Homo sapiens: one gene and its partners. The protein of the gene in region 1 purifies or fractionates together with the protein of each later gene. This does not show direct contact. Each region holds a gene or a part of one and is shown in the gene's direction. Other genes may lie near its edges.

The links.
Region 2: the proteins of PIK3AP1 (region 1) and SCCPDH purify together in Homo sapiens (co-immunoprecipitation; one large-scale study listed by IntAct). This does not show direct contact.
Region 3: the proteins of PIK3AP1 (region 1) and TLR2 purify together in Homo sapiens (affinity purification with western blotting, with the first as the bait; one study listed by BioGRID). This does not show direct contact.

Annotation. Positions count from the first base shown.
Region 1 is NC_000010.11:96,717,620-96,721,948, reverse strand, and holds the start of PIK3AP1 (phosphoinositide 3-kinase adapter protein 1), read left to right. Parts: upstream 1-1,434; 5' UTR 1,435-1,554; coding exon 1,555-1,567; intron 1,568-3,255; exon of another isoform or gene 3,256-3,336; intron 3,337-4,329. UniProt on the Homo sapiens protein: Signaling adapter that contributes to B-cell development by linking B-cell receptor (BCR) signaling to the phosphoinositide 3-kinase (PI3K)-Akt signaling pathway.
Region 2 is NC_000001.11:246,727,398-246,731,046, forward strand, and holds part of SCCPDH (saccharopine dehydrogenase-like oxidoreductase), read left to right. Parts: intron 1-3,649.
Region 3 is NC_000004.12:153,690,769-153,694,417, forward strand, and holds part of TLR2 (toll-like receptor 2 precursor), read left to right. Parts: intron 1-3,649. UniProt on the Homo sapiens protein: Cooperates with LY96 to mediate the innate immune response to bacterial lipoproteins and other microbial cell wall components. Cooperates with TLR1 or TLR6 to mediate the innate immune response to bacterial lipoproteins or lipopeptides.

The DNA of each region.
Region 1 (4,329 bases):
TGGTCTCGATCTCCTGACCTCGTGATCCGCCCGCCTCGGCCTCCCAAAGTGCTGGGATTACAGGCGTGAGCCACCGCGCCCGGCCACTAGGATCCTTAAAACTGGAAGAGGGAGACAGAAGAGAGTCAGAGAAAGGGATATGATGACAGAAGCAGGGCCATCTGGCTTTGAAGATAGAACAAGGAGGCCATGAGCCAAGGAATGTGGATGGCTTCTAGAAGCTGAAAGAGCCAAGGAAATTGATTCCCTTCTATTTGGCAGAAAGAAACCCAGCCCAGCCACCACCTTGATTTTAGCCGATGGAGACTCATGTCACACTTCTGAGCTACAGAACTGTAAAATGATAAGTTGGTGTTGTTTTAAGCCACTAAATTTGTAGTAATTTATTATGGCAACAGAAGAAAATGAATGCACGGCCTCATCCTGATATTCCCGTTCTTAAATCCATTTCATTTTATTTCCACCTGGACTTCAGCCCTAACCTTGCCTCATCTCTGCTCTCTGGGTCCATCTTCTGGCCCCTGGATTGTTGAGAACTCCAAGGGGATGTGCTATTCAGTTGAATTTCGGCAGCAGGCAAAGGGAGGAGTCCAAGAAGAGGGCAGGTGAAGGCAAGGGTTAAGCAAGAGTTCTAGCTCTGGAAGCAGACTGGCTTGGTACTGAACCTCCGGGAGCTTTTGTTCTCTGTGGAAGCCTGAGCAAGGTATTTGGCTTGTTTCTTTGGCTCCAATGTAAAGACAGTGATAGGTGCTACCTCAGAAGGTTGCTGTGAGGATGCAATGCGATAATGTGTGTAAGGTGCTAAACGCAGCGCCCAGCAGACAGGAACACAGGAAATGAATGGCAGAGAAACTCTATTAGACATTTATCATGTGACATTATAATTAATGTTCATGTGCCATCAGGAGACCAGATCCAAGGAACGGCAGAAAGATCACAGGAGGGCACTCAAGGGCAACGCCGAGCACCCAGGGCCAGGTGCCCAGCCCTCCTCCTCTTCCCCTTCCTGTCCCCTCCCCTTTCCTGCTGGGGCAGCAGGGGCTTAGGGACAAAGCCCCAGGCGATGAGGAGGTGGCTTGGACAGCTGGTGCTCACACACACACACACCCCCGCCCTGTCTCCCAGAGGCCTGGCAGCCCCACACTCTCCCCCTCCGCCTCCTCCCCACACCCCCTCCACCTCGGGCTGCCCTTTGGTGGCAGATCAGGGCTGGTTTCCCGAGGAGTGGGGCGCACGTGGCGCGAAGCCCCCGCCTTCTCGCTGCCCCTGAGCAGGGGGCCGTGGGGGGAGCTGGCCGGCGGCCGGCATGGGGTTCTCACTTCCCCTCCCCAACGGCCGCGGGTGCAGGTGCCGCGGGCCGAGTCCCGCAGGCGGGGCGGACTCTGTGGACACGCCCTCGTGGCGAGGCCGGGCTGCCCTGAGGGAGGAAGCGCCAGAGCGGCGGCCGGTCCCGCGCGGAGCCCGGCGCCCCTCCAGCCCGAGCCAGGACGCCGCCGGCCCCGGTCCCGGCCCCGGGCACGCAGCGAGCCAGGGATGTGAGCGGCGCCCCGCGGCATGGCAGCCTCAGGTGGGTAGGCAGGCGCCGCGGGTCCCCGGGCTCCCGGCCCCTCTCTCGTACCCCGCATCCCTTGAGGCGCGCTCCCCCGCTTGCTTCTGTTTGCGTCCTCTGTGCGGGGATCTTGCCCTCTTTCTGCTCTTTTCTATGTTCCCTGTCGCAAACTTCCCACTCCAACTTTCCCACGTTTCCCGTCCCAGCCTGTGGCGCGATTCTCTTCAGCCCCTGCCTGGCCCGACCCCCTCCCACTTCTTCAGGGTCTCCTTCGCTCCCTCCACCTCTGGCCCTAGGAGTGTCTGAGCGTCGCTTCCCCTGTCCCTCCGACTCTGAAGCGAGAGGCGAGTTGAGAGAAGCGGAGGGCGGGCGATGTGGATGGTCTACAGGGCCAAACGCGTCTCCTGGGCTCCGTGGACCCACAGGGGGCGCTCAGGCAGTCCTAGGTGGTGCGGAGAGATCAGCCGGGGAGGCCCTTGGGACAGTTCCCCAAGCCCCGTTCCTCCACCCCTCCCAGGCTTTGTGTTTTGGGTCTAGAACTTTGCTAGGGATCTAGGAACACTATTCCTTGAACTTTACTTTTCCTGCGTCCTTTGCAGAACTTTGGGGAATGGGGAGAGTTGGCGGTCACTGGGTAAATGTACTCATCAAAGGGTGCCAAGCGTCTTTTCTGGCTGGTCTTGGGTTGCCTTCTGGTTCATGGGTGTACACACTTGGCAAGTCGCTCACTGACGGAGATCCAGGACAAGCCACATAATGATGATAACGGAGACAATTAATGAGTCCTTACTATTGCACTCCAATGGATACTGTGCACCTAATATGTTCTCCATGGTGGGCAGGAAACACCTAGTCTCTGCTCTCCAGGAGTTTATGGTCCTGTAGAGGAAAGCAATAAGTAAACAAGGAATTACTAGATGAGAGGAGGTAGAGTTACAGTGTTTACAAATGGGTTTACTTGTATTTTCCCAGCCCACTTTATGATGTTTTAGTAGGGATAACCTGTGAAAACAGGTTGCAGGTGCCCCTTGAAAAAGAAAATCTAGGTGGCCAGGAGAAGGCACTGTTCTTACAGGAGGTGAGCAAACACTGGAATGAAGAGCCAGCTCTCCCCAGATCCTCTGAGGGTCTGGTAAGGGTGCTTCGGAAGCAGAGGTAGAAAAGGCCAGGAGTGATTGTTCCATGTACTACAGGCTCATTAAAGGGGATGGGAAGGTAGTTAATCACAGCCTCCTGGCTCTCCAGCTGGGCTCTGGAGGCTAAAAGAAGCTGTGTTGTGAATAAGGAGGCCTAGTAATAGCAGGTAATATACACTTAATAAGGAAAATCTCTGGTATGACATGTGTTATGGGAAAACGATAAAGAAGGGTGAGGGAGACTGGGGTTAGGATTTTCAAATGAGGTGGCCAGGGTGGAGAAAGGCACATTTGAGCCAAGATTTCCAGGGGGAGGAGGCTCTTTGGGGAAGAGTGCTCCAAGCAATGAGTGTATGTGGTGCGTTAAAGGAAAGGGAGTAGGCCAGAGTGGCTGGAGTAGGTGGGCTGTGGGGGAGAGGGAGATGAGGCCAGATAATAAACCAGTGAAGCCGCCTCCTCCTTCCATGGTCAGGAACAGGCCCTGGGCTGCTGAGTCCAGGAAACCGCAAACTGGGAGGGCCTTTGGGTGGAAGAGTCTGAGAAAATGGCCTCTCTTTTCCTCTTTTCCAGCGTCCTGTGTACCTCTCTCCAGTGGACACAGCCGAAGGAGCTAGGAAGGCGAGCTCCAGTTCAGAGGGGGACCCTAGTCCGGTGGGCAAACCTGGGGCTATTTATGGGCTCTGTAGCAGCTTCTGCAGGTGTTTGTAATGGTTAGAGCTGTCAAACTGTCTTGCTGTCTGCGTCTTCTGTGGCGAGACACCACTCCAGGTGCTGTAATTGAGAGTTGGGTCTCTGGAGTCCCTCGGGTTCCCTGAGGTTTGGAAGTACAAGGACCCATGGGGGAAGATCACAGTGGTGAGAGCAATGCCGCTCGCCAAGGTGCTGTGGGCTTTGGAGTCATCCAGCCACCCTTCTGTATGTTCTTCTTTTCTTTTAAAAGCAGCTTTATTGTGATATAATTCACATGCCATACAATTCATCCATTTAAAGCATACAATTCAGTGGTTTTTAGTATCTTTACAGATATGTGTAGCCATCACCACAGTCAATTTTGGGACATTTTCATCACCTCAGAAAGAAACCTTGTATGCTTTAGGTATCAACCTTTTATTCTCCTCTCCTCTCCCAGCCCTAAGATCTACTTTGCCTCTATAGATTTCTCTACTCTGGGCTTGTATATGAATGGAATCACATAGTATGTGGTCTTTGGTGACTGGCTTCCTTTGTACAGCATAATATTTTCAAAGTTCATCCCACTGTAGCTTATATCAGTACTTCGTTCCTTTTTATGGCCTAATTCTTAAATTCCCTTCCACTGAAGGGGAAGCATTAGTCTATATTGTTTTCTGAAAGATGTCTGCTTGTTGAAATCCAGGAGAAGTTAGGCTCCCTGTCTTTGAAAGGACCTTGGGTAGGAAGATAAAATGAAATGGACTTGGCCTATTCCACAAAATTCTCTAGGCCCCTGATGGCATCTTGTGTATTTACACGTGAGAGAGAGGAAAGAGAGGATCCGTGAGTGACTTTCCCAAGTGGCCAAGTCTGTGGCTGGGTGAAGAAAGACTAGTACTCTCTCCTCTGTGTATCAGCTCTCATACCGTCTCTTGCCCCCTCTCTCCAAGGCTCTTCTCTTTAGATCCTTCT
Region 2 (3,649 bases), on another chromosome or scaffold:
AAACGACTCATTTATTGAATAAATATTTATTGATGCTTACCACATGTGAAATGCACTATTGTAGGCACCTGGGACACAATGGTGAACAAAACAGAAAATCCCTCGTGGACATTACGTTCTTGGGGAAGACAGAAAAATAGGATTGTAATAGGAGGTAATGAAAAGTGCTTTGAAGAAAAGTGAAGCCAAGAAAGGAGAAAAGGTCCTGGCATATTGGTGTTTTTAGATGGATGGTCAGGGAAGGTTTCTGTGAGGAATTGACATTTGAGCCAAGATCTGAATGAAATGAGAGCAAATTGCATGAACCTTTTGAGGAGAGACTTTTCCAGGGACAGCAGGCACAAAGGTCCTGAGATGCCAGTGTGCTTGGCAAGACTGAAGAGTGTGACAGAGGCCAGTGTGGCTGGGCATGGCAGAGAGGTGGAGAGTGGATCAGAGAGCAACCCGGGAGCTGGGTCATGTGGGATCTTACGGGCCATGGCCAGGATGTGGATTTTTTTTCCAGGTGTGACCAAGAGGCGTTGAATGGTTGAAAGGAAGGGCTTCAGCTGATTTAAATTGGAAGTTCTTTGGCTTCTGAGTGGAAAAGTAGATAACAAAGGATGAGCAATGGAATGGTGCAAGCACAAGCCCTGGGGTCGTAGTGGTGCTGAGAAGTAGTTAGGTCCAGAGTATATTTTCAAAGGAGAACGGCTTTTGCTGTTGTACTGTGAAAAAGTCATCAAGTCACAGGCCATCAGACTTTTGGCCTGTGTAACAAGGTGAATGTTGGTGACATTTAGTGATCTGAAGAAGCCATCACAGTTGGCAAGATGTTTAAAAATTAAATATCTAAAATATTAATAATTTTTAATTGAGAGCAAAAGGGTTTTTGAATTGCTATTAAATAGAAGTGTTGTTGATTTAGATTCATCTCATTCTTAACTAGCTTAGATTCCATCCATGAGGTCCACTGCTGCACTCTATAATGGACGCCCTCATCTATCTCCCTTGCCTTTTTCTCCTCAGTACTCTGGAAAAATCCCAGCCCTGGTTATTCTCTGCCTGCTCTTCACCTGAACATGAGTAACACAGTGTGGCTGGAGAAAAATGTATCCCCCTGCTAACTGGTCACACTTCAAATATGTGTTTACAAACGTTGTGTGGTGCTTAGCACCTCCGGCAGCTCTGCTCTATTTCCCTCAGGAATTCTCTCTCCTGCTCTCTGAAGCAGCTCACAACCTTGTTTTCCTTGAACTTTTAGTATCCCGTCTCTCTTTCCTTGTTCTTATCTGATTTTATTTTTCTTTTTTTTTAACTATGAAAATAGAAGCTGGTTAATAACAGAATTTCTTTCTTCATCTTCCTACCACCAGATCTATCTACCTACCTACCTGTCTGCCAATCTGCATCATACCCTGTAGTCTGCCATATCTCTTGTTACAAGGAAAAACTGGTCCTCTTCCTATTGGGCACAGTTTTCAAAGACTTTATTATCGGGGGAACCAGCCCCCAGTATTTCAACATAGGTTCTTTTCTATTTTCCCTAAGTGTCAGCCAGTCTGAGAAATAAAGAGAAAGAGTACAAAGAGAAATTTTACAGCTGGGCCTCTGGGGGTGACATCACTTGTTGACAGGTTCCGTGGTGCCCCTTGAGCTGCAAAACCAGCAAGTTTTTATTAGGGATTTCAAAAGGGGAGGGAGTGTACAAATAGGGAGTGGGTCACAGAGATCACATGCTTCAAAAGGCAATACGGTATCACAATGCAAATGGCAGAGCAAGATCACAAGGCCAGGGCAAAATTAGAATTACTGATGAGGTTCCATGTCCCGCTGGGCACGCACTGTCATTGATAAACATCTTAACAGGAAACAGGGTACGAGAGCAGACAACCAGTTTGACTAGAATTTGCCAGACTGGAATTTCCTAATCCTAGCAAGCCTGAGGGTGCTGCAGGAGACCAGGGTGTATTTCATCCCTTATCTTCAACTGCATAAGACAGACACTCCCAGAGCGGCCATTTTAGAGACCTCCCCCTGGGAATGCATTCCTTTCCCAGGGTTATTCCTTGCTGGGAAAAGAATTCAGTGATATTTCTCCTATTCGCTTTCTGCAAGAAGAGAAATATGACTCTCTTCTGCCCAGTCGCGCAGGCAGTCAGACATTATGGTTATCTCCCTTGTTCCCTGAAAATTGCTGTTATCCTCTTCCTTTTTTAGGATGCCCAGATTTCATATTGTTCAAAGACACATGTTTTACAGTTTGTACGGATAACTCAATCATCACAGGGTCCTGAGGCAACATACATCCTCAGCTTACAAAGATGACAGGATTAAGAGATTAAAGACAGGCATAGGAAATTATAACAGTATTGATTGGGGAAGTGATAAATGTCCATGAAATCTTCACAATTTATGTCCAGAGATTGCAGTAAAGACAGGTGTAAGAAATTATAAAAGTATTAATTTGGGGAACTAATAAATGTCCATGAAATCTTCACAGTTTATGTTCTTCTGCCGTGGCTTCAGCTGGTCCCTCTGTTCGGGGTCCCTGACTTCCTGTAACACTTTATGTTTACAATTACACATTATCTTGTTATCAAATTTCTCCTCTTTACTGGATTATTTCAATCAGCATTTAAATATGTGATATCTCCCATATTTTAAAAAAAGCTGCTTGATTCCACATACCCTTCCAACTACTCTACTTTTTGTGCCCCCTTTTTAGCAGCCTCCTTGGAAGAATTCTCATGACTCACTATCTCTGCTTCTTCACCTCCTACTCTATCTTAAACGCCTCCTATTGGGCTTTTGTTTTCCTCCCTCCTCCAATGAAACTACTCTGCTAAAGTCCCACCCTGTCAAATCCAGTCTTCATCTGAAAGCTTGCAGCATTCGATCCAGCTGACCACTTTCTCCTTTCTTTGCTCAGCTTCTACGTTGTCATCTTCTCGTAGTTTTCCTCCTGTCCACCAGCTTCACCCTGGAAGTCCTCGTCTCCTCCACTGCGTCTTTGTCCTCCCCACTCTAAATGCTTGAGGCCTCAGCGTTTAAGCTTTAGAACCTCAATAACCTCATTCAGGCATTAGGTTGCAGTAAAGTGAAAACGACTGAATGAATGAAGAGTGGTGCTGAGGCCCTCTCTGTGTGATGGAAACTTTCCCACAACCCCATCAGGATACCTGCTGTGTCCTGTCTTCAACACATGACCACTTAACATGGCCCAGGGAATGTCTCGTAGTCAGTCCATATAGTAACCGTTAACGGAACGTCATGTTTTTGTAAACATTAACATGGATAAAAGTTCTGATATTTACTTCCACCCTCAGTGGATCATTCTGCGCTTCCCTTAGGGGAAGACTACTTGGGAGACCACTGGGTTAGAAGATGGAACTTTGAGGGCCAGGCGCGGTGGGTCATGCCTGGAATCCCAAACCTCTGGGAGGCTGAGGTGGGCAGATCACTTGAGGTCGGGAGTTTGAGACCAGCCTGGCCAACATGGTGAAACCCTGTCTCTACTAAAAATACAAAAAATTAGCTGGGCATGGTGGTACACACTTGTAATTGCAGCTACTCGGGAGGCTGACGCAAGAGAATCACTTGAATCCGGGAGGCGGAGGTTACAGTGAGCTGAGATTGCGCCATTGTATTCAAGCCTGGGCAGCAAGAA
Region 3 (3,649 bases), on another chromosome or scaffold:
TAAATTGTGAAAGTGTCTAGCATTAGATATTGCAGTAGCAACTAGGCGATCAGCCATTTGATTCCCTTCAGTTAAAGGTCCTGGAAGAGGTGTATGAGCCCTAATGTGAGTGATGTAAAAAGGGTGCATTCTACTCCTAAATGCTGTTTGCAATTGGGTAAATAAAGTCATCAGTTGTTCATCTGTATGAAGTCATAACTGAGCATTTTCAATTAATTGTATGGAATGAACCACATAGGAAGAATCAGAAATCACATTAATAGGCATATCAAAAGCAGTCAATACCTCAATTACAGCTAAAGCTCCACTTTTTGAGCTGAAGTATAGGGCGTGTGAAAAACTTTACCTTTTGATCCAGAATAAGAGGCTTTACCATTACAAGACCCATCTGTAAAAACATTCTCAGCACCTTCAGTTGGTTTAAATTTAGTTATTTTGGGGAGAATCCAATTAGTTAATTTCAAAAATTGAAATAATTTCATTTTAGGAAAATGATTATCAAGAATACCCACAAAGTCAGCTAAATGGGTTTGCCAAGTAAGACTATTTATAGAAGCTTGCTGTATTTGTGCCTTTGTGAGAGGGACAATAATTTTTCCAGGATCATATCCATGTAATTTAACAATCCGAATTCTCCCATTTCTTATCATCGTAGCCATTTGATCCAAATAAGGAGTTAGAGTCTGTGAATTAGTATGTGGAAGAAAAAGCCACTGTACAAAGTCTTGCTCTTATACAATAACACCAGTAAGTGAATGCTGAGTTGGAAAAATTAGCAAATCTAGGGTCTTTTTTGGATCTATTCTATTTATTTGAGATTTATGGATTTGCTTTTTGATTAGCTGCAGCTCTGCCTCAGCTTCTTTTGTTAATTGCTGAGGGCTAATGAGACTAGGATCTCCTCTAAGGATAGAAAATAGATTACTCAGGGCATAGGTGGGAATGCCTAGAGCAGGTCATATCCGATTAATGTCCCCTAGTAATTTTTGAAAGTCATTTAATGTTTTCAATTGATCCCTACGTATAGTTACTTTCTGTGGCACAATGGTAGTGTCATTTACTAAGGTCCCCAAGTAGGAGTAAGGAGTAGTAGTCTGAATTTTGTCAGGAGCTATATAATTAAACTGGCATGAGAAATCGAGTTTTGCAAGTGATCATAACATTGGAGTAATATTTCTTGAGTGGGGGCAGCACAAAGTATATTATCCATATAATGAATAATGTAACACTGTGAAAATTTTTTACGAGTAGGTTCAATTGCTTGCCCTTCATAAGTCTGGCAAATTTTTGAACTGTTTCACATGCCTTGTAGCAACACTTTCCAATACAAATGCTTTAGTATGCTGCAGGTTTTTTACTGCAGGAATTGTAAATGCAAACAGTTCACAGCCTTGCTCAGCTAAGGGGATAGTAAAGAAACAGTCTTTTAAATTTATGACTATTAAAGGCCAATTTTTTGGAATCATAGCAGAAGAAGGCAGTCCCGGCTGCAATGTCCCCATAGGTTGTATAACTGAATTAATGGCTCTTAAGTCAGTTAACATTCTGCATTTACCTGATTTTTTCTTAATTACAAAAACTGGAGAATTCCAAGGGGAAAATGTTGAGCTATGTGTCCTTTTTCTAATTGTTCAGCAACTAAGTCCTCTAAAGCCTCCAGTTTCTCTTTACTCAGCAGCCATTGTGCTATCCAAATTGGCTTATCTGTTAACCATTTTAAAGGTATATAGGTTCTGGAGGCTTAACAATGGCCACCATCAAAAATGATATCCTAAACCTTGGTGGGAACTTTGTCTTTCCGCTTGAAGCATTTCCTTCAAAGCTTGCAAATTTTTTCCTAGTCCCATACCAGGGACATACCCCATTTCATGCATCATATGTTGACTTTGAGGGCTGTATAATTATTCTGGAATTAGAACTTGTGATCCCCATTGTTGTAATAAATCTCTTCCCTATAAATTTATAGGTACAGAAGTTATAATTTTTTGTATAGTCCCAGGTTGTCCATTGGGCCCTTCACAATGCAAAATATAACTACTTTGATATACTTTAAGGGCTTTACCAACTCCAACTATGTTAAATTGAGCAGGTTGAATTGACCATGCAGATGGCCAGTGCTGTACAGAAATGATTGAAATGTCCGCTCCTGTATCTACCAAACTTTTAAATTTCTTTCCCTGAATAGTTATTTCACCAGTAGGATGTTTATCAGTAATTTGATTCACCCAATAAGCTGCTTTGCCTTGTTTATTTGTGCTTCCAAATCTTCCTGTTCATTTAATTTCACTTTTCCCCATTTCCACATATGGCATAATCAGGAGCTGTGCTATATGCTCTCCTGGCTCTGCTTTCCAGGGAACAGAAGTAGATATAACAATTTGAATTTCCCCTTTGTAATCTGAATCAATGACTCCTGTTTGTACTTGCACGCCTTTTAAATTTAAACTAGACCTACCTAGAAGTAATCCTACCATCCCCGCTGGCATCATCTGACTGGAGACAGCAACCTTCTTTAACAGTCCCATTACAAAAGGAGAACCTGTTCCATATGGATTAATAGCTTGTTTAAATTCTTTGAGTAATTTAAAAGGAAAAGGCTCAAATGTAGCTATAATATTTCCCTGTTGATCTACGGGGTATATTCTAACAGGGAACTGCTAAGCCTCTATATCACCCTCTCTTCTAACTTGCTGAATTCCTGGCTGAATAGAACTGAGAGTGGTCGCTCGAGGTGCTGCTCAGTCACTGGGGCGACTACTTTTTGCCCAGTGTCCTCTGGAAAAGAAAGATCTGGAGGATCAGGCTACTCTTTTGCTTCGAAATAATGAGGGGGTGCAGAAGGGTAGGGACAAACCTCTCCCTCCTTTGCCACTTTAGCTTTAGCTGGCAAACAAACCTGCTCTGTCACCTCTTCTGTTACTTCATTATACTTTCCTTCCTCCTCATCTTTAGTGTGAAAAGGTTCCAAGGTGGAATGAGCTAGAGCCCACACTTGCCCATTGTTACCCTGATGCTTCCGAGCTCCCCTTCTTACTCACCATGGGGATTGCTTAAGAGTACTCGGGTATCCTCCAGCTTTGTTCCACGTTTTCCAACCATTGCTCCAGCGAGCCTTCATCCTGGGTTTGAGTCCCCACGTTGGGCGCCACTTGCCGAGACCAGCTCGGTCGTGGAGACCCTAACCCAGCAGTGCTAGAGGAATTAAAGACACACACACAGAAACATAGAGTGTGGAGTGGGAAATCAGGGGATTCACAGCCTTCAGAGCTGAGAGCCCTGAACAGAGATTTACCCACGTATTTATTGACAGCAAGCCGGTGATAAGCATTATTTCTGTAGATTATAGATTAACTAAAAGTATTCCTTACAGGAAACAAAGGGATGGGCCAAAACAAAGCGATGGGCTCTGGCTAGATATCTGCAGCAGGAACACGTCCTTAAGGCACAGATCGCTCATGCTATTGTTTGTGGCTTAGGAATGCCTTAAGTGGTTTTCCATCTTGGGTGGACCAGGTGTTCCTTGCCCTCATTCCAGTAAACCCACAACCTTCAGTGTGGGCGTCATGGCCATCACAAACATGTCACAGTGCTGCAGAGATTTTGTTTATGGCAAGATCTGGGGCCAGTTTATGGCCAGATTTGAGGGCCT